Regions from separate parts of the Homo sapiens genome. Here regions 1, 3 and 4 are each linked to region 2. Evidence: fine-mapped expression QTL. A gene starts in region 2. Each other region holds a variant in brackets. All regions are shown on one strand. Distances are between the middles of the regions.

Region 1 (5,145 bases), 190 kb after region 2:
ATTGGTAGAGAGAAGGGAAAGCATTCCAGCAGGGGGCAGCAGCTAGAGCACAGACTTGGAAAGTAAGAAGCTGCATGGAGCAGTGGTGTTGGGTGTTGGCGCCTAGTGGGTGCTCGATACATGTGTTGAATCATGAATGATGTATTGAATGGTGGTGTGGGGGACGGGGATCAAGGAACTTGGGGAGCTCAGATTGGCAAGAAAGACTGGGCTTGAATTTGTCCTTTATAGGCAAGAGGGAGCCGTGGAAGGCGTTGGAGCATGGGACTGACTTGGCAAAAGCCCAGTTGAGAAGTTTAAGTTGGCAGCCAGGGTTCCATCCAGGTGGTAGTTGAAGGAATGCAGATGTGAGGCAAGGGTGGGGCAGGGGTCCAGGGGACCCCTGGGACCCCAGCAGGTCCAGCCAGGGGCTCTGTAATAAAGCACAAGGGTCCATCTCTGGATCAGACTCATGCAAAGGCCCCTTCCAACCCAGGAGAGGCTCTGCTGTCTAGAAGAGGTACACCCCTTCTCCATGCTCCTGCCAAGCACTCCTCATCTAAAGACACCAGGCTCCCTCCACTGCCCCCTCCCCACTCAGGCAGACTCCTCCAGCCCCTAGTTCTGCAGGCCTTGGCTGAGAGGGGATCCAGAGTGGCCTCTGTGGGATGACATCACCGCCCACTGCCTGCCTGGCCTGCAAGTGGTTTCTCATCTGGATACCTGCTCGCAGCTCCCGCCCGCCCGGCTGCCCTGGCCAGGGAACACCCTAAGAGGCAGCTGCCAGAGGGAAGAGCTGGGAGCCTGCCTGTGCAACGGGAGGGAAGGGCAGCCAGAAGGACAGAGTGTCCGTGTGTCCATCCCACAGCCTTTGGAGCAGCTCCTGAGAGAGGCCATAGCCTGTCTGTGCTTTCCAATGCCTAGAGAATATTTCCTTAACTTTTCTACCTGTGTCCCAGAGAGTCAGCCTTCAGGAAGGTCAGGCCAATTTTCCAGGAAAGTGGTGGGGGGAAGGGGTGTGGGGGTGTGGATTTAACTCTGCTTTGAAACCCTGCCTCAGATTTTCTTGGCTTGGATTAAAATGAGCTGATGTCTGTCCACTCCCCAGCACCTCCTGCTCGTCCTCCAGGCATCTTCTGGCCACAAAGCTGGGGCTTCTTTCTCCTCCTTACCTCAGTTTCCCCATCTCCCCTTTCTCCCTTCGAGTTTGGCTCATTTTCCCATATTCCCATATCAGAGTCAAGGTATTCATATTGACACCACAAACCAATGAGTCCCTCTGTTCATCTTTCTGCCAGTTCACGCGTTTCACTGGTTCATTTCACACTTATTGAGTGCCTGCCACCTAACAGGCACTGTGGTCTGGTCAGTAGAGGTGGCAAGAGTCAACTAGAAACCCATACTCTAGGCCAGGCGTGGTGGCTTATGCCTATAATCCCAGCACTTTGGGAGGCCAAGGCGGGCAGATCACTTAAGGTCAGGAGTTCAAGGCCAGCCTAGCCAACATGGTGAAACTCCATCTCTACTAAAAAATACAAAAAAAAATTTAGCCAGGTATGGTGGTGGGCACCTGTAATCCCAGCTACTCGGGAGGCTGAGGCTGGAGAATTGCTTGAACCTGGGGGGCGGAGGTTGCAGTGAGCCGAGATTTTGCCACTGCACTCCAACCTGGGCGACAGAGCAAGACTCCGTCTCAAAAAAAAAAAAAAGAGAGAGAAAGAAACCCATACTCTAGTCTTTATTAAGCAGCCGCTGTGTCCCAGGTACCTGGGATGTAATGGGCCCTTCCCTAGGGACCAGGCGCCGGTGGCCCATTATAGGCCACATACAGTGCAGAAGTTAAGATCATAGGCAGTGGTGTCAGGTGGGCTTGGGTTCAATCCCAGCTGTGTGACCTTAGAGAATTCACTTACCCTCATGAGGCTTGCTTTGCCCATGCGTGAAACGGGGCCATCACAGGACCTACTGCATGGGGTTGCTCTGAGGATTGGACGAGGCAGCTCGATGCTGTTGGATGCCTCCAAGTCAGCACTGATGAAGGCTTGCTGTCACTATTGCTATGATCTGGCCATACTCAGGCCTTGCGGGCTCTCTAACCTGCCACAGAACTCTCTATTCTTGTTTGTTGCTGGAGCCTTTCTTTCCCACTCTTCTCATCCAGTGCCCCCACACTGGGAAAGGAGGCCCCATTTCTCGTAGGGCAGGGATGGCCCTTTTTGTGCCGGGTGCGCTTAAGAAGTGCTGTTGGCCACAGAGGCTCCAGGCATGGAACAGGCACTGCTGTTCCCCTAGGGGCACAGTGGGAGGTAGTCCGTCAGCGCAGCACCCGGCGCTGCCTCTGCCCAGCTGGCAGGGGCAGGCACAGAAGCTGGCATGCCTAAGTACAGAGGCGGGGCAGGCCCTACTGCCCGGCTGTTGGTTGCATTTCTGCCTGAAATACAATCCCGGCTTTAGCAGGGCTGCTCGGGACTGTGCACGTGCGAATGTATGTGGCACACTCAGCTGTGCAGGGTCCCTTCTGCTTCTCCAAAGGGCTGAGATGGGCCTGCAGGGCCCACACCTCATGGGAGAAAACT[G/T]CCGGGGGGCAGTGGGTTTCTTTCCCTGGAAGGAGGCCTCCCTTTGGGATTTCCTAGAGTTCTGTGGCCATTGCCGTCTGCCCTAGGTTGGAGGGAGCCTCCCCCTACAGAAGGACCCAAAGATCTAAGTAGTGCTTCTTGCACCTGGGTGCACACAAGCACCATAGGGACACAGGGGGGATGTCCAAAAACTACTCATGCCTGAGTCCCAGACCAAAGAAACCTGTCTCTCTGGAGCCCAGCATCAGTACTTTTAAAAAGCTCCCTGGGTGATTCTGTGCTTCCAAGTTGAGGATTACTGTGCTAGAAGAACCAGACTGATGGAAACAAATCAGAGGCAGTTATTCTGCAATGGAAAGACAGATGGGCTTGGGCCTGAACAAAATCATACTGAATGAATGTGATGCTCTTCATAGCAGCTGTGGGAGCTAGAGTCGTCTCTTGCCTGCTGTAGAGGGGCCTCTGGTTAGTCTTTTGTGAAATGGAAGATAAGGGGGATGTTGTGGGCATGAAATGGGGCGGTTAATGTGCCTGGCACATCACATTTGCCAAGTCAAACTCAGGCGTGTGGGGAATGTGGCTATAGGCTGAGGCACCAAGGGGGCTGTGTGGAACTTGGAGACCCTCAGCAATTTTTGTAGCCAGGCTAGTGACATGAAGCCCCCTAGCCTTCAAGGAGATTGGCAGACATATAGTTTATGCCAGTCGCAGTGGCCTATGCCTATAATCCCAGCACTTTGAGAGACTGAGGCGGGAGGATCACTTGAGCCCAGGAGTTCAAGACCAGCCTGGGCAACAAAGTGAGACCTCAGCTCTACAAAACATAAAAAAATTAGCCGGGTATGGTGGTGTGTGCCTTTGGTCCCAGCTACATGGGAGGCTGAGGTGGGAGGATTGCTTGAATCCAGGAGGTCAAGGCTGCAGTAAGCCATGATTGCACCACTGCATTCCAGCCTGGGCAACAAAGACCCTGTCTCAAAAAAAACAAAAGTATACTAGGAATTCCCTTTGGGCTGGGGGTGGTCTGAGAAGGCTTCCTGTAGGAGGTGACTAGTCCATTTCTGGCTAGTGGATCCTTTTCACTCCTAGCTAAAAGCACATCATAGGCCGGGCGCGGTGGCTCACGCCTGTAATCCCAGCACTTTGGGAGGCCGAGGCGGGTGGATCATGAGGTCAGGAGATCGAGACCATCCTGGCTAACAAGGTGAAACCCCGTCTCTACTAAAAATACAAAAAATTAGCCGGGCGCGGTGGCGGGCGCCTGTAGTCCCAGCTACTCGGGAGGCTGAGGCAGGAGAATGGCGTGAACCCGGGAAGCGGAGCTTGCAGTGAGCTGAGATTGCGCCACTGCAGTCCGCAGTCCGGCCTGGGCGACAGAGCGAGACTCCGTCTCAAAAAAAAAAAAAAAAAAAAAAAAGCACATCATATTTTAAGTGTCTTATCCCCCCCCGCCCCCCCCCCCGCCAATAATGGTGATGGGAAGAGTTGAAGTGCAGAGGTTTAAGCAGCATCCAGTGCCACTCAGCTAGGAAGCTAAAAGGGCACCCAGCCTGTCTGCCTTCCTGCCTGGTGCCTGCTTAGCAAATGTCGTGCTGGTCCAGTGGCTGAGGAGGACAGAGAAGCTGCTTGCTCCTGGGAGTCCACCTGCCCTCCCTCTGCTGCACCCAGCTTTTGACCCCTCAAGCCCCTCAAACTGCCGGGGCCTGACCACAAGCCCCGGCACTGAAAGGCAGAGAGAAACTGAGTCAGTCTCTGCAGCCAGAGGGCCCTCTCTGGAAGCAGGGCTGGGGGCAGGCCTGAGGCTGGTCCGACTGTACCCGGCCTGGGCTCGGTGGCAGCGCCTGGGTGAGCCCGAGGGGCAGGAACGGAGCGAACTTGAGGAAAAGTTGGCGGGGGGCGGGCTGGGCTCGCCAGCCGCTGGCGCGGGGACTTTCTTCTTGGGTTTCAAGTAAACAGTCTAGGCCTCCTCCCCCTCCCCTGCCTCCACCCCCGGCTCCTCATTCGACGGGTCTCATGTGTTTCTATTTAAGGGTTGCGAGTAAACCCCAGTGATTGGCGGCCTCAAACCCTCTTGACTCCTCGCCTGGGCCTGGGCCGTGGAGAAGCTCTCTCCCGCTCTCTCCTCTCCCTCTCCCGCCCGAGGGAGCAGGGCTGCCTTTTCTCTCGGGTTTGCAGGGGTTGGGGGCAGAGGCTGGAGCCTCCTGCTTGCCTTTCCTTTGCCTCTGGCCTCAGCCCTCATGGGCCGCCCACCCGCTGGCTCGCCGCCCTCCCCGATGCCCCTGCCGGCCCGAGAGGGAGGCCGGAGAGACCCCGTCGGCCCCAGGCCTCCCCGCAGGCTCCCTCATGCCGGGCTGTGACTAACTCATCGCAGCACAAGGCTTCTTTCTGAGCTTCCTTGGCCTCCGCCTCCGCTCTGCCTCTCTCTTTCCTCCTCCTCCTGCCCGTCCCCTCCCCGGCCCCCTGGCTCCCCATGTCCCCCGGACCCCGCGGTGCAGCGGGCCGGTCTGGGGCCTTGCTATATGGCCTGTCCTTGGCGCCCTGTGAGCTGCGAGCCCCGGCTGCGGGCTGCCCCTGGGAGCGGCGCTGGCGA
Region 2 (5,145 bases):
CTTCTAGTTGGAAAGTTCTTTGATTCTAAGCATTCTACAATTACCTGTTTTCGAAAATCAGATTTTCAGGTATCAGTTTGCATCTTTATGTTGGCTTCTCTTTCCCTTACTTATCCTAAACTTAAAAAAAAATTTGCAATTATATTTTGTCATTTTTAACTCACACAATGTCCTTAGGTTGGAGTCATCTCCAGTTCATGGGCGGAGGTGGCAAAATAGGGGTTTCTCTAATCCTTTCTAGCACTAGCTCTTTGAGCAGATGTTTTCAACACAGGCCATCCTATATACCTACTGTGTGCCACGCATAGTTGGGGTATTTAATGAATGATGCACAGTCCTTGTTTCCAAGGAAACTTCCCCCAGTCTCTGTCATTTTTGGGGGATTGCCAGGCACATGTGAGGCATTCAATAAATGTGTATTGAACAGAAAGGAATTCCCAAGGCACTGTGGGAAATAAATCTGCATGAGGTTGAAATGTACCCAGAGAAGAGATAGCCTGCACCATTTCATACTTAAATCCCCTTGGACATACGGCCCCAGTACAGAAAAGACATTTTTCTCCCACAGGTAGAAATAACTTCTGCCCAGATCTTGGCACCATGGGGTTGAGTGGGGAGCACTCAGTTGCTCCCTCCAATAAAGGTAATTACGGAACAAAGGGGGAAGTTGGGAGTATGCTCAAGTCAGGCTTAAAGGCCTGAATTTATAAAATGTCAAGTTGCAGGGAGTCTTTTAGGCAGGAGAAAGGCTACCACTTTGTAGGCCGCTAGGAAGTGGGGAAGAACTGGGCCCTCTCTCCTACAAATTTATTGTGCTTGGTGTGTTCATTGTGGATCTGGGTCCGAAAGAAGGGTAATAAGGAAACCACTAGTGCTGTTTTAGATGAGCTGACTGCTTTGATTCACAAGGGGACCCAAATCAAACTAAACCCCCTCCTCTTCTTCCCCCCACAACAGCTAAACACCAGCTCCCCTCGCTGGTGGCTTCTCAGGTTTTATTAGCACTTCCAGAAGACTTTGCCATCCACAGAAGACGAGTTATCCGAGAGCCATGATGAATCTCTTCCTCACAAACTCACAGGCTGTCTTGATCCATCATCAGAGAGGACCTGGAGCTGGCCAGCACCCTCCCAAGTTCGGGAGCTCAATATGGAGGGCCCGTTCCAGGTCTACCTCTCATCCCTTCAGGGAATAATCCTTGCTCATGGAGGTAGTGCCCTGTCCTCCCATTTTCCCATCAGCTGAGCAACATTACCAGGTGCACCTTCCCCCAGGACTCCTGCTCCAACATTCACAAAGGTTTTCTGTCATCTTCTCTGACCAAGAAGCTCTGGCCTGGTGCCAAGATCTCTCACAGTCTGAGCCCCCTAGGCCCATCCATCTTTTTTTTTCTTTGTCCCGTGCCATCGTTTGGTGTCCTAGCGCCCTTCCCCAGGAAGGTTGGAGGAATAGTGGGTTACTCTGTATGGAGCAAATATGTGAATAAATAAAGCCTTAGATCTGTGCCTGGGTTCTGACAGTCTAGAGAACGCGCAGAAGAAAGTATTAATGCAATTAGGTCACAAAATTATTTGTCCTCTTTTCAGATGTTTCACATTGGTCCACAGTCACAAAGCTTTATTGTGATTGTGTAACAACTGGAGTAGTTGTGAAAACACTACCCTTTAAATGTTTGAAAGCAGAATGGGAAAAAAATGTTGAACTAGAAGGGGGGAAGCTACATTGAATTAAGTAGTAACTGTGCTCCAAGTCCAGGGACCACGGACAAGTGGCTTGGAAAGTGGGTTTTCCAGACTAGAGGGAGGGGTGAGAATGCCAGAGCCTGGGGCTCACGGTGAGCTGGCCTCCAACCGGGTGGGTTTTCCCACCATTGTATGCTCCTTTCCCTGTCGCCAGCTTGGGGAGGGTCCCCAGGGGAGCCCTGGGCTTAAGGCAGTGGTGTTATGCAGAGTCTGTAACGTTGTCATTGGTAAATGATGCACAGGGTAGTTACACAAGCCCAGATCGATGGACGACTCAGGCAACGAATCGATCACTTTTCCGGGGAGAATTCACCCTTTATGACCTGCAGAGGGTCAGGTGGTTCGTCCAAAGAGGCTCTGGCTTGAAGGATTTAAAGCTGGCCTTTTCCCCATTCCCATCTCCTCCTCGGGGGCCTGGGCAGTAACAGCCGGGTAATAAACTACTTCTCATTAAAGAGATCTGGGGGTGGAAGTTGTAGGGGGACATAAAAGTGGGGACAAAAAGGCACAAATCCGCTCCGAGGCGGAAAGCCAGGATGGGGGCGCGCGGGGCTCACTTTCCCCGCTCCCTCTCCCCCCGAAGCCACCCTGAGTTTTTGTGCCTAGCGAACTAGCCCGGTGCTGCGCCAGGCCGCTGGCTGCGCGCTGGGCTCGGGTGGGGGCTCGTCGGCCCGCCCCTGCCACTGGGGCCGGGCTGCAGCCCCCTCCCCGTCGCCCCGAGCCCCTCCCCCGGCCCGGAGCCCCTCCCCGCGCGCTTCCCCTCTCTCCCCTCCCTCCCTTCCCTTCCCTGCCTGCCAGGCCCTGCCTCCGCCTCCTGCGCCCACAGCCTCCGCCAGCGCCGATCCCCCCGGAGCCCGAGCCGGAGAGCGGCGAAGGGGAGCCGCCGGCCCCTCCCCAGGACGCTGACAGCAGGCTCCGGGGCCCCCGCCCCGTCCCCTCGCCGACGGGACACACCCCCGCCCCTCCTCTGCTCCGCCAGTTCCCGCCGGACCCACCGGGCGGCGGAGAGAGCGAGCGGGCGAGCGCAGCGCGGCGGCCGCGCGGGAGTGAAGGGGCGCGCGGCAGGCCGGCGGGGAGTCCCCCGGGGCGCACGGAGCCCGCGCGCCCTCCGGGACCCTCCCCCGTCCCTGGGCCGGACCTGTGGGCGCCGGGAGTCCGGGCAGCGTTCGGCGCGCCGGGCCGGGGTGGCGGGCGGCCCCGGGACCCCGGCAGCTGGAGAAGGAGCCGGAGCCCGGCCGGGATGAGAAGGTGACGCCGCCGGGGGCGCCACTCGCTTTGTGGGGGAAGATGCTCGCCTACTGCGTGCAGGATGCCACCGTGGTGGACGTGGAGAAGCGGAGGAACCCCTCCAAGCACTACGTGAGTACAGCCCCCGCCGACCCTGCTGGGGGTGGCCCGAGGTCCCGGGAGGGCCCCGGATGGCCCCTTGCCCCTCCCAGCTGTGAGGTCGCGAAGCTAAGCGCCCACTGGGCAGCCAGCAGCCGTGGAGTTTCTTCGCAGGGCTGTGATCTCCAGGGAAGCCTCTTCTGTCCTTCCTCCTTCGCACCCCCGCCCCCCCGGTTTCTTTTTTTGGCATTGGAATTGGCAAGTGGCTGCCCTTGTCTGTTACAACGGTGAAGTCATCTGTCCGCCTTTGATGGATGGTGGGGGGAGCTTTCGTCAACCCCTCACAGAGCAGCCCCGTCGGGAAAGCGCATCTCCTCGGCCCTCCCCAGGGGCCCTGGGCGCTCACGCTCACACAGCCCGAGATGCTTTCAGAGCTCGCCCTGGAGAAGGAAGCCTCGCGCCCTGCCTCCCACGCCAGCTCTGTCTCTGCCTTCCTAGGCCTGGGGCTGGGGGCAGAAGGAAGCCGCCGCCCCCTTGCCCAACCTCCACCCTCCGCGCTAAGCTTTGATTTCCCTCATAAAGCCATTGTGTCCGTCGGTGTGAGGAGAATTGTGGCTTTTCCTTTTATCCCTCCTCTGGACGTGACCCTTAACCGGGTTCATTTCCTCTTAAGTGATGCTCCATCTCCAGACACGAGGAGGCGAATGTTTGCTGTGGTCTCCGAGGAACCGCCCCTCCCCCTTCCTCCCCCAAACTTTAATGAGAAGGGGTTAAGGTTGACTGGGGCAGCTCCAGAGCCTATGTGACAGTTCCCCTTTCATCTCAGCCGGTCCTGTCTTCCCATCCCTCACACCTTAGGAAGTAAACACGGTGTCCTTGACCCCTCTGAGCGTCTGTGCTCCTGTACTTGAGATAGAAGAGACCCAAGCACAGAGGACTGCATGTTATTTGCAAATTGGGTATTTAGAGGAGCAGTTCCAGTGCTCAAAGCATTAATCTTAACAGTTAAAACAGGCGCTGGTTGCTGCCCTGGATTGTACATTGATCTCTGAAGTGCCTTTTCTTCCACTGTTGCAAAGGGACTGGGGTTTGTGGCAATGTCAGCCTCGGGCTACTCTTTTTGCCTTTGTCACCAGTGTAGCTCTGAACTTTGAGTTTCTTTACAGCTGAGCAAATGCGGCTGGGCTCATATGGGGAGGAGGTAAATGTGGAGGCAGGTTGACTAGGCAGGGAGGTGGGTGCCTGTCGGGTCCAGTCCCTGACACCCTTAGAGAGTTGTTTCTTTTGTGTCATCTGGTCCAGCAAGCATTTTCTGCTGCTGTTACAAGAAAGCTCTTTTTGGAGGGCTTGGGTCACCAGGTGGTCAACCTGCTCTGTGGACAGATGTCCCTTTGTATATCCCAGGGTTTATTTTTCTCAAATGTTGCAGGCTAAGTTTTAAGGGTTCTCATTTGTAGTCCTCAGCTGAGCTTGGCACTGCATTCAACAGATGGCACTCTGCTCTGAGACCCAGGCAGGTGCGTTTCCAACTCTGGATTTTAAATGAAACATCACATTTCAGCTCCCACCGATGGTGCCCAAGGTTGCAGATGCAGGACACACTGGTAACAAACTAGAACCGGGGCCCACTGCAGACAGGATTGAAAGGCAAGATTGCGTGCTGGGGTTCTGAAGTTAGACGGTCTTGCTCAAAGCCTGGCATGCAGCCAGTAACTAGCTGTGCCACCTTGGCAAGTTATTTAAACCTCCCCCAGCCTCAGTTTACTCAATTTCAAGTAAGGATAATAATAGTATGTACTTGTTGGGAGAATTAAATGAGATCATCTATGTAAAGCACTTAGCCCAGTTCCTGGCACGCAGTAAGCTCTTATTAAATGGTAGCTTATTATTGGTGAGATTCTGACTAAGAAAGTATTTTTGAAAAGCAGCTATTAATGGTCTGGCAAAAAGGAAGAAAGATTTTGGGTTTTAAGATTGATAATAACTTGTTCTATGTGAAAAACACAAAAGAAGTCCTGTCCAGTTCCCTCGAAATGATCATTTCCTTCCTTTTTACAGACAAAGTGTTTCCCGGGAC
Region 3 (5,145 bases), 230 kb after region 2:
GGCAGCTGTGAGTGGCACCAATGCGAAGGTACCGCTGACCCGCGATGGGGAAAAGGCAACCGTTGACCGTTAGAGACTGTCTGTGAGGCACTTAGCTTGAAAGCTGAGAAGGCAGCCAAGCTCCAGGCAAACCAGTCATCCTAATGGGTTTCAAAGACCATAAATGGTCTCTCTGTATGGCCGGAGCTCCCTTGGCCTTTCCTGCAAGATGAATTTTCACACACTGGACATATCACTATGTCTATTTCATTTTCCATCAGACATTTGTTAGTGTGGCTCACAGTTTATTGGTCCCACTTCTCGGGAAGTGTGCTGGTCGTTTCTGCCTTAGAACAGACGCAGGCTCCTCGAGGCTGGAGCTGGGCCAGGCATTTGCTGGGTCCCCAGGCCATCTGGCTCCATGCTCCGCTTCTTGTGCCTCTCCTTCCATCCTTGTCCTGGCCCCCGAGCCACCCCTGCCACCCTGCAGAATCTCACAGTCCTGTTCTCTCTTGTCCTCCCTGCAGGCTGGTGGTTCGTGAGCACTTCTGAGGAGCAGGGCTGGGTCCCTGCCACCTACCTGGAGGCCCAGAATGGTACTCGGGATGACTCCGACATCAACACCTCTAAGACTGGAGAAGGTGAGGGCTTGCAGGTCCAAGGGGCAGGGAGCAACGCGGCCTCTGGAGGCAGCTCTCTCACTCTTTCCCTAGAACCAACAGAACCCCTAAAGTGAGCTGAGCCATATCCTAGCCTCCTCCCTTGGGATCCCATCTCAGTAAGGTTGGCCCAAAAGCTCACCTCCCACCCCAGTCCGACCCCTGCTGCTCTGTCTCAGGGGCTCAGGAACTGAGGGATGGCTCAGACCCCTACACAGTCAGCCTCTCTGATTAGCTTTGGCTTCATGAGGTTTGTTTTTCCACCCACCCCCCTTTTTCTTATTTTTTTTTATTTTTGTATTTTTTTCTAGAGACAGGCTTTCACCATGTTGGCCAGGCTGGTCTCAAACTCCTGGGCTCAAGCGATCCACATGCCTTGGCCTCCCAAAGTGCTGGAATTACAGGTGTGGGCCACCGCACCCAGCCCTTCCTTTTTTTTTTTTTCTTTTTCTTTTTTTTTTTTTAATTCCAAACACTTAAAAACTACTCAGTGAGGTTTTTCAGGGTCTTTCTCCTTGCATTTCAAAGAGTCTGCCCCTGCCCTCTAAGCCAGCACTGGCCTGGGCCTATCTGTGGCTTCTGTACTCCCTAGAGCAGGCTGCCTGAGCCCAGTCCGTTTGCGCCACCCCCAGTTCTTGGCTGCCTGCTCCTAATGGCTTCCAAGCCTCCCATGGCCTGGCTGCGGGAATTCTTTCCCTAACGGTTGGTGGGGATGGTCCAGATGGATGTCTGAAAGCCAGAGGGATTGAGGCCACCACCCGGTGCTCGGGCCACCTCCAGGCCTGCTTTCTGCTGCCAGGCCAAAGTAAGCAGCCGCCAAGTGCCAGCTCCTTATTCATTCTTCCCCTAAATGTCGGTTACTCGGCGGGCAGCTGGGGCTTCGCCCTTCCTCCTATGTCGAGGCTTTACTTCAGCCCCTTGACCAGAGCCTCGGCCCCTGCCATGTGCTTCCACTGTGTGACAGGTTTCCAGGGACAAGGCCCCATTGGGAAGGGCCCGCATGTTCAGGCTGGGCTGCTCCCTGAGCCCTGGGGCTGAGCCTGCACCTGTCTTCCCTCTGGTTCCATTGCACCTCTGCAGCAGGGGAGAGTCTTGGCCCCTGAGCTAGGTCTGGTCTCATATGCCTGCAGTCCCCAGCCTCACCTCCTACCTAGTTCCACATTCTTTTTGTTGTTGTTGTTGAAACAGAGTCTTGCTCTGTCTCCTAGGCTGAAGTGCAGTGGCACAATGTCAGCTCACTGCAACCTCTGCCACCTGGGCTCAAGCAATTCTCATGTCTCAGCCTCCTGAGTAGCTGGGATTACAGGCACCTACCACTACGCCTGGCTAATTTTTGTTTTTAGTAGAGACGGGGTCTCGCCATGTTGGTCAGGCTGGTCTTGAACTCCTGGCCCCAAGCAATCTGCCACCTCAGCCTCCCAAAGTGCTGGGATTACAGGCATGAGCCACAGTGCCCAGCCCCTAGTTCCACATTCTATAGGGCATGCCAGGGCCTCTCAAAAACAGCAGGAGCTCACAAAGTACCAGATGCTAGACCAGGTCCTGAAATGCCCTTGCCCCCACCCTGGGAGGACCCTGTGGCTATGGCCATCCCCATCCTTCCAGCTGTGGCAACTGAGGCTTCAAGATGTTTATCAGGTTTGGACCCTAGTCCACCTCCTTTGTCCCTTGGTCCTTTCTGCTGTGCCACACACCTCTCTGTGAAGCATTTTGCTCGTAAGCAGTACAGGCAGCTCTAGGGCAGTGCGTGTATGAATCAGAGCCCCAGTTGAAAAGGCTGCACCAGGAAGGTCAGAGCGGAGCTGTTGGGTCGATTATGGAGGACCTAGGCACTGAGTGGGGAGAAGGCCAGGGCAGGAAAGCGCACGAGAGGTGTGGAGCACAGATGCCAGCCTGGTTGGAACAGAAGGCAGGTGCTTTGCGCACAGAACAAGTAGTAGTGGGTTGGGCAGGATTTTGACCTTGATGGAGGAAGAATCAGGCAGCCAGTGCAGATTCTGCGTTCAGAGGCGGTGTGGGTGTATGTGTGTGGGGGGTGGGTGTGGGTGTGTGTGCGCGTGCATGCGTGCCCAGGGCGATTCTCCTAAAATAGGTTCCTGCGCACGCCTCTGACAGGGCCTGTGTGCCAATTCTCCTGGCAACTTCTGGATAGCTGTGGATTCCACCGTCACATCTTGGGCATTTCCCACCCAGATCTACAGAAGGGCTCAGGGATGGGTCCCCTGGGCCTAAGGCCCCAGCTGCTGTGGTGTGTCCGCTAGTCTCTCTGCACCTGCAGCCACATGGCCAAGAGATTGGCCGACACTAGTTCCCTCTCCAGCCATCTCTACCCCAGC[G/A]CTATGGCCATCCCATCATAGGTGCCCTGAGCCCTGTAGACAGAAATTGGAAGCCTGCATCCTATCAAAGCTTTCCTAATAGCTCATCTTCATTACTTTAGGAAGAAAAGATGATTGGCTGTTCTGGTGTGTCCTTATCATGAGACACTTTGATGTATGTTCATGCTGCTCTTGAACCCAGGTGTGCTGTGGGAGTTCAGTATGGTAGGAAGGGTGGGAGTTGAGACTTCCTTGTCCACTGACAGAGGTGCGGGTCCAAGCCTGACATTCGCAGGGTGCTTCAGTGAACCAGGAGAGGTGTGTTACCTCTGTCAAGCCCTCGGGTTCATTTGTGATAGAGCCAAGACCAGAACCCAAGTCTCTGCCTTTGCTCCTGTGTCCCACATCTACCAGTATGGACCTGCTTCCTCCAGAGTGGGCGCATATTGGGACATGCGGAACAGACCACGGTCTTCTGTGCTGCTGTACCAAAGGCGTGTACCCCATTAGTGAGCAGATCCCCCAGCACCCAGACCCTGTTCCCTCCCCACATCCCCTTCTTCCCAGGGCTTGGCAGCCCAAGGGGCAGCAGAGTTAGGGGAACAGCAATAGCTCGGGGTGCAGAGTCTGTGCTAAGAGTCTAGGCTTTGGAGCCAGACTGCCTGGATTCACATGCTGCCTGACACAGAGTGTTCTTTAAAGCCCTGTGCCTCTGTCTCCCCATTTGTAAGATGCCAACCACATAGGGCTTTTGTGAGGCCCAAGTGAGATGATCTTTGTACATGGTTTAAACTGGGCCTCGCACACAGAGTAAATGCCGACATCAACACCTTACTGTGAAAGCTGCCTCTGGTCTGGCCATGAGCTGAACCCCTTCATCTCTGCAGAGAAGCCCTACACACCTCCCCCACCTCTCCCTGCCCCACCAGGAGGCCTTGCACAGGACCTGATTCATGTTTCCCAGAGCCCATTCAGCCCCTTGTCTAGGCTCATGCCAGGGCAGGTGGTGTCACTGTAAGACAGATGAGGAAAGAGAGGCTTAGAGATGGGTGGCTGGCCTCCTAGAGTGACACAGGTTGCTGGCAGTGGGGCCTGGACTGGAGTCCACACCTCCTACCCTTTTGTCCTTATAAGAAGCAGGTCAGACAGGTCCCTCTTCTTCCAGGAAAGCAAATGCTTTCCCAGGGCCTCGGTGGTCTGGGACGGTTTTATTTTCACTCCAGCCACTGGCCCCTCTCCCACCCCCAGACCCGGGCAGCCTGGCACCTTCTTTCTGTGGTGGCAGGAAGTGAGGCCAGCTGGCACCCTGGAGCCCTGGTCCAGTATCCATTCCATCTGGGAGTCTCACAGGAAGACAGAGGCATCTGGAGCTGGGGTCTGAGCAGAGGGTGCAGGGGGCTCAGAGCCAAGCAGCAGCCACCAGAGGAGCAGTGCAGGATGCTGCTCAGGGCACGGGGTCAGGAGCAGTGAGAAGCTGGGGAGGGGGCCCCTGTCATCAGATGTCCCGATGGGTGGCCTGAGAGGAGGAGCAGAGCCAGGGCCTCTGGCACCCACCCTTGTGTCATTCCGTTCAGCAGGTGCTTCCTGGGACCCAGCTGTGTGCCCGGCCCTGTGCTAGGCCCTGGGAATGCAGAGACACAGGGAAGGGTTCCCAGAATGGCGAGAGCTCTCAGCCCCGCAAGGAAGGGATCCAAGTCTCTCTTGGGCACACTGATTCTTCCAAGCATGGTGCCTGTCCAAGGTAGCACGTTCACAGTCAGTACTCAGTGAGCGAGTGGACATAAGCTCAGATGTTGCAGGACCCCACACCCTCCTGGGAATCAGCACCGCCCAGCAGTGAGGGACACTGATCTCACCATCCCTGGAGGCTGTAGCTGAGGGGCTGTCTTGCACTGGGCTGGAGCTAGGGACCCTCTTTTCTCTAAGGTGCTGGGATTCTAAAGGCTTTAGCCCACTCCTAGGCTCAGGGGCACACGCTGTGGAGTTTGGTTGAATTTTTCCCTGTGTGCCGACCATGACCTGTCATATCTGCCCCATCCAACAGGGGCGTGCCCTTTGGTTCAGTCCAGGTGATGGTGACTGGAAGTGTGGGCCTCCCCTCCCTGTGCCCCTTCCTCCCACCCCCATCCCATCTCATCCTCATCTCCATTCTCTCCGCCGGTTGCTGTTGGCCGCATGCTCCATCGCCATCT
Region 4 (5,145 bases), 320 kb after region 2:
CAAGTAGCTGGAACTACAGGTGCCCACCCCCACGCCCAGCTAATTTTTGGATTTTTAGTAGGGAAGGGGTTTCACCATGTTGGCCAGGCTGGTCTCAAACTCCTGACCTCAGGTGATCCACCCGCCTCAGCCTCCCAAAGCGCTGGGATTAAAGGCCTGAGCCACAGCGCCCGGTCAACATTGTTATTTTAACAAAAATAACTGAGGGAGAGTGCCAGAGTTCATCAGATGGGTGACAGAAACTTGAGATGGCTACACAGAGAACAGAAGAAAATGCTGGGACTCTACCATTCCATCCCCCCACCAGGATCAGCTGGAAACCAGGAGGTAAGCAAGAGGGTGCAAGCAACCCCCATCAACACCTTGGCCACCTACAGACCTCACCACTGGAGTCCCTGCAATTCTCACAGGCACCAAGCTCAGCTAAGGAAGCTGCCTGGAGTCCACACAGCAGTGCTCCTCCAAAGAAGAAGCCAATGCTGTGCCATGCCCCCTGTGCCCACATGGCTACTCTGCTATGCCATCTTGGAATTGGAACAACAGCTGGAGCGCATCTTGCTCCCGGGGTGAGTTGCCATGGGTCCCCTTCATCCCTGGAGCTAAGCCACCCTCCACCCCAGCCCAGTGGCCCAACATCCCCAAGCCAAGCTGCCAGCAGCTGTTGCACCCTTCCCTGCAGGGCCCAGCAGAGGTAGAGCCACTCCATCTACCCCTCCTTCTGCCCCCTTGGGCCAGAGCCTAACTGATTTCCTAGGTACCCTGCCTCCTAAACACAGTACCTTGGCTGCTCAGGACAGTCACACCTCTCTGGTGCCTAAGTTGAAGGAGTGCCTTACATCCCAGAAAACAGTACCTTGGCTACCTGGAGCAGTCACTCACCCCAGTGCCTAAGCTAAAGTGGTGCTCTGCATCTCAGGGAAATAGTTCCTGGGCTGCCGAGGACAGTCATGTCCCCTATCACCCCCAAGCATGAGCTGAAGCAGCACACCAGCTCCTGGGGAATCAGTGCCCTGGCCAAGCTGAGCAACTGTGCATCCCAGAACTGAGCTGACCTAGTACCCCATGTCCCAGGGAAATAGAGCTGTGAATGAACTGAGACATCCTGCCCTACAGGCCAAACAACCCTAGTACTCTGTTGCCCCAGAGCTGGGCTAGCCCTCTAGAGTCTGAGCCGCTGACATACCCCTCTCCCTGGGGAGTAAAGTCATCACTGTGCTGTTTCTTGCCCCCTCAGTGCCCAAACAACAGCTGTGCCCCACCTTTCTGGGATACTTGCTGCTGCTGCACCTGGCATCACACAGTCAGGATTATTGCCAAGCCCCACAATCCCTTGTTCTAGAGTCACACTACACAATGCCTCATCCCCTGGGATCTGAGTTGCTGCTGAACCCTATTGGCTCAAGTTCCTGAATTGCAGCCATGCCTTGTCTCCCAGGCCCAAATCTTTAGAGCACTTCTTCCCAGGAGTCAGGCCAGTACTGTGCCCTCTCCCTCCCAGCAGTAGAATCACAGGTACAACCCAGCCTATGGGGCTGAGCTGATAGCGGGTGCTTCAGAGTCACAGATGCTGGCTCTGTGGGCAACATATATCCAACCCTGCCACTGACAGCAAAGTTGCACCCCATGACCCAGGTGGCATAATACGCTTGCAAGACCCTCAGCCTAGGACCCCAGCCCCACAGCCACTCTAAGCACCTGCACCTGGAACTCAGGGCTGCTGCAGCTGCTTGTAGGCCATGTCAGACTTGATACCAAGAGAGATACCCTTGGCTAAGTCTTCCCCTTGTGGGTTAAATGAGAATAGGAGGACCTCAAGAGCCCTCAACACTGAGGACATTAACAACCTATGATGCCAGTGTACAAACATCTACAGCCTAGGCCACGGGGGTGCTCACAGTTATTGCTGATGTCCAGTGCAGCTGAAGAAGCTGCATAGAGACTATACCATTGCACCTATCCAGAAACAGAGTCATCACACTCTTTCCAACTGGCACACTACAACCCAACTGCAGATGAAAACCTTTCTCTACAAAAGCCATTCTAAAATGGAAGAGGTGATTGATCCACTAGATGTACAGACATCAATGTGAGGATGTGGGGACAAAAGAAACTCAAAAGTCAAGAAAATATGACACCACCAAAGGAACATAATAACTCACTAGTAAGAGACCCAAATGGGAAGGAAATCCACAAATTTCAAGAAAAGGAATTCAAAAAGAGATCTTAAGGAAATCAACAAGATACAAAAAAAAAAAAATACAGATAGACAATCTGATAAAAATCAAGAAAACAATTCACGATGTGAAAGACAAATTCAACAAAGAGATAGAAACAATTTTAAAAGAAACAAACAGAAGTCCTGCAGCCAAAAAGTTCAATGAATGAAATAAAAAATGCAATAGAGAGCTTCAACAGCGCTTGATCAAGCAGAAGAAAGATTCTCTGAACTTGAAAGGTAGGTCATTTGAGCTAGGCGCGGTGGTTCACGCCTGTAATCCCAGCACTTAGGGAGGCCAAGGCGGGTGGATCACCAGAGGTCAGAAGTTCAAGACCAGCCTGACCAACATGGAGAAACCCCATCTCTACTAAAAATACAAAATTAGGCCGGGAGCGGTGGCTCAAGCCTGTAATCCCAGCACTTTGGGAGGCCAAGGCGGGCGGATCAGAAGGTCAGCAGATCGAGACCATCCTGGCTAACACGGTGAAACCCCGTCTCTACTAAAAATACAAAAAATTAGCCGGGTGTGATGGCGGGCGCCTGTAGTCCCAGCTACTCAGGAGGCTGAGGCAGGAGAATGGTGTGAACCCAGGAGGCAGAGCTTGCAGTGAGCCAAGATCGCGCCACTGCACTCCAGCCTGGGCGACAGAGTGAGACTCCATCTCAAAAAAAAAAATACAAAATTAGTCCGGCATCGTGGCTTATGCCTGTAATCCCAGCTACTCAGGAGGCTGAGGCAGGAGAATCACTTGAACCTAGGAG[G/A]CAGAGGTTGCAGTGAGCTGAGATCACGCCATTCCACTCCAGCCTGGGCAACAAGAGTGAAACTCCATCTCAAAAAAAAAAAGAAAAGAAAAAAGAAAGGTCATTTGAAATTACCCAGTCAGAGAAAAAAATAAATAAGAACAAAAAAGTCAAGAAAAATTACAAGACTTATGAGACATAATAAAGCAATCAAATATTTGTATTACAGTAGTTTTAAAAGGAGAAGAGAAGGGCCAGGCACAGTGGCTCAAGCTTGTAATCCCAGCACCTTGAGAGGCCAAGGCGGGTGGATCATGAGGTCAGGAGATGGACACCATCCTGGCTAACATGATGAAACCCCGTCTCTACTAAAAATACAAAAAAAATAGCCAGGCATGGTGGTGGGTGCCTGTGGTCCCAGCTACTCGGGAGGCTGAGGCAGGAGAATGGCGTGAAGCCAGGAGGCAGAGCTTGCAGTGAGCCAAGATCACGCCACTGCACTCCAGCCTAGGTGACAGAGCAAGACTCCATCTCAAAAAAAAAAAAAAAAAAAAAAAAGGAGAAGAGAAGGAAAAAGGTGTAGAAAACCTATTTAATGAAATAATAGCTGAAAACTTCTTAAGTCTGGGGAAAGATGTGGACATCCAGATCAAGGAAGCTCAAAGATTCCCAAATAGATTTAACCCAAAAAGGCCCTCCCTGAGGCCATTATAGTCAAATTGTAAAAAGTCAAAGATACAGAAAGTTCACAGAGAAAGCCTCCAAAAAAAGGAAAAAAAAAAGAGAATTCTAAAAACAGCAAGAGAAAAGCATTGAGTCACATATAAAGGAATATCTATTAGACTAAGAGCAGATTTCTCCACAGAATCCTTACAGGCCAGTAGAGAATGGGATGATACAGTCAAAGTGCTAAAAGAAAATAATCATCAGCCAATAATACCATATCCAGCAAAGCTATCCTTCAGAAATTAGGGAGAAATAGTCTTTCCCACACAAGCAAAAACTGAAAGAATTCATCACCACTGGACTAGCCTTACAAGAAATGCTCAATGGAATCCTACATCTGGAAGCAAAAAAGACAATCATCACTATCATGAAAACACATAAAAGTGTAAAACTCACTGGTAGAGCAAATACACAAAGGAGAAAAAGAATCAAACCTTATCACTACCAAAAAAACAAAAACCCAAACCACAATCATAAACAATAAGAAAGAAAGGATACACAAAACAATCAGAAAACAATTAATGAATTGACAGGGGCAAGTCCTCACCTATCAACAATAACCTTGAATGTAAACAGATTAAATTCCTCCATTTAAAAGACATACACTGCCTGAACGGATAAGAAAATAAATGACCTAACTATATGCTACCTACAGGAAACTCACTTCACCTGTAAAGACACATATAGACTGAAAATGAAGGGATGGATAAAGATATTCCATGCAAACAGAAACCAAAATTGGCAGGAAAAGCTATGCTTAACATCAGATAAAGCAGGCTTTAAGTCAAAATGGTAAATAGAGACAAGGTCATTATATAATGATAAAGGGATCAATTCAGCAAGAGGACATAACAATCATAAATTATATGTGCCAAACAATGGAGCATCCAGATATATAAAGCATAAATTATTAGATCTAAAGGGAGAGACAGAGGCCAGGCACAGTGGCTCATGCCTGTAATCCCAGCACTTTGGGAGACTGAGGCAGAAGGGTTATTTGAGGCCAGAAGTTCAAGACCAGCCTGGGCAACATAGTGAGACTTCATCTCTACTAAAAAAAAAAAAGAAAAAGCCAGGAATGGTAGTATGCACTTAGGAGGCTGAGGCAGGAGGATCACTTGAGCCCAAGGAGTTTGAGGATGCAGTGAGCTATGACCATGCTACTGCACTTCACTCTGGGCAATAAAGTGAGACCCTGTCTCAAAAAAAGTGGGGGCCAGACATGGTGCTCACATCTGTAATCCCAGCACTTTGGAAGGCCACAGCAGGAGGGTAGCTTGAGGCCAGGAGTTCAAGACCAGCCTGGGCAACATAGCAAGACTCCACCTCTAATAAATAAAAAAAATAAAAATGTTTCAAAAAGTAGAGACAGAACCCAATATAATAATGGTTAGGGACTTCAACACCTTACTCTTGGCATTGGATAGATCATCTAGATAGGAAATCAACAAAGAAACATT

Alleles and levels. Alleles are on the strand shown, and positions count from the first base shown. SD is a standard deviation of normalised expression in the study named. Not every link is listed here.
For the expression in monocytes after LPS of the gene that starts at base 2,720 in region 2, allele A in region 4 goes with a higher level than allele G (moderate effect, 0.67 SD a copy in Quach 2016).

The links. PIP is the estimated chance that this variant, and not a neighbour inherited with it, causes the effect.
Region 1: its variant is the best candidate, but not a certain one, in a credible set for the expression of SH3PXD2A in whole blood (TOPMed, PIP 0.51).
Region 3: its variant is the best candidate, but not a certain one, in a credible set for the expression of SH3PXD2A in whole blood (INTERVAL, PIP 0.64).
Region 4: its variant is the best candidate, but not a certain one, in a credible set for the expression of SH3PXD2A in monocytes after LPS (Quach 2016, PIP 0.68).

The regions. Positions count from the first base shown.
Region 1 is chr10:103,661,214-103,666,358 of GRCh38, reverse strand. All of the region lies in intron 7 of SH3PXD2A (SH3 and PX domains 2A), which reads left to right. LOC124902495 (a long non-coding RNA gene) reads right to left here. Exons shown (of 2, transcript XR_007062276.1): 2 at 208-412. Among named protein-coding and RNA genes, the nearest start is that of SH3PXD2A-AS1, 83 kb to the left of the region's middle. The variant G/T (reference allele first, on the strand shown) is at 2,556.
Region 2 is chr10:103,853,151-103,858,295 of GRCh38, reverse strand. SH3PXD2A (SH3 and PX domains 2A) reads left to right here and starts at 2,720. Exons shown (of 15, transcript NM_001394015.1): 1 at 2,720-3,101. The coding sequence starts at 3,030.
Region 3 is chr10:103,622,564-103,627,708 of GRCh38, reverse strand. It overlaps SH3PXD2A (SH3 and PX domains 2A), which reads left to right. Exons shown (of 15, transcript NM_001394015.1): 9 at 507-620. Among named protein-coding and RNA genes, the nearest start is that of NEURL1-AS1, 110 kb to the right of the region's middle. The variant G/A (reference allele first, on the strand shown) is at 2,975.
Region 4 is chr10:103,531,293-103,536,437 of GRCh38, reverse strand. The region is part of intron 1 of NEURL1 (neuralized E3 ubiquitin protein ligase 1); the gene reads right to left. Among named protein-coding and RNA genes, the nearest start is that of NEURL1-AS1, 16 kb to the right of the region's middle. The variant G/A (reference allele first, on the strand shown) is at 2,981.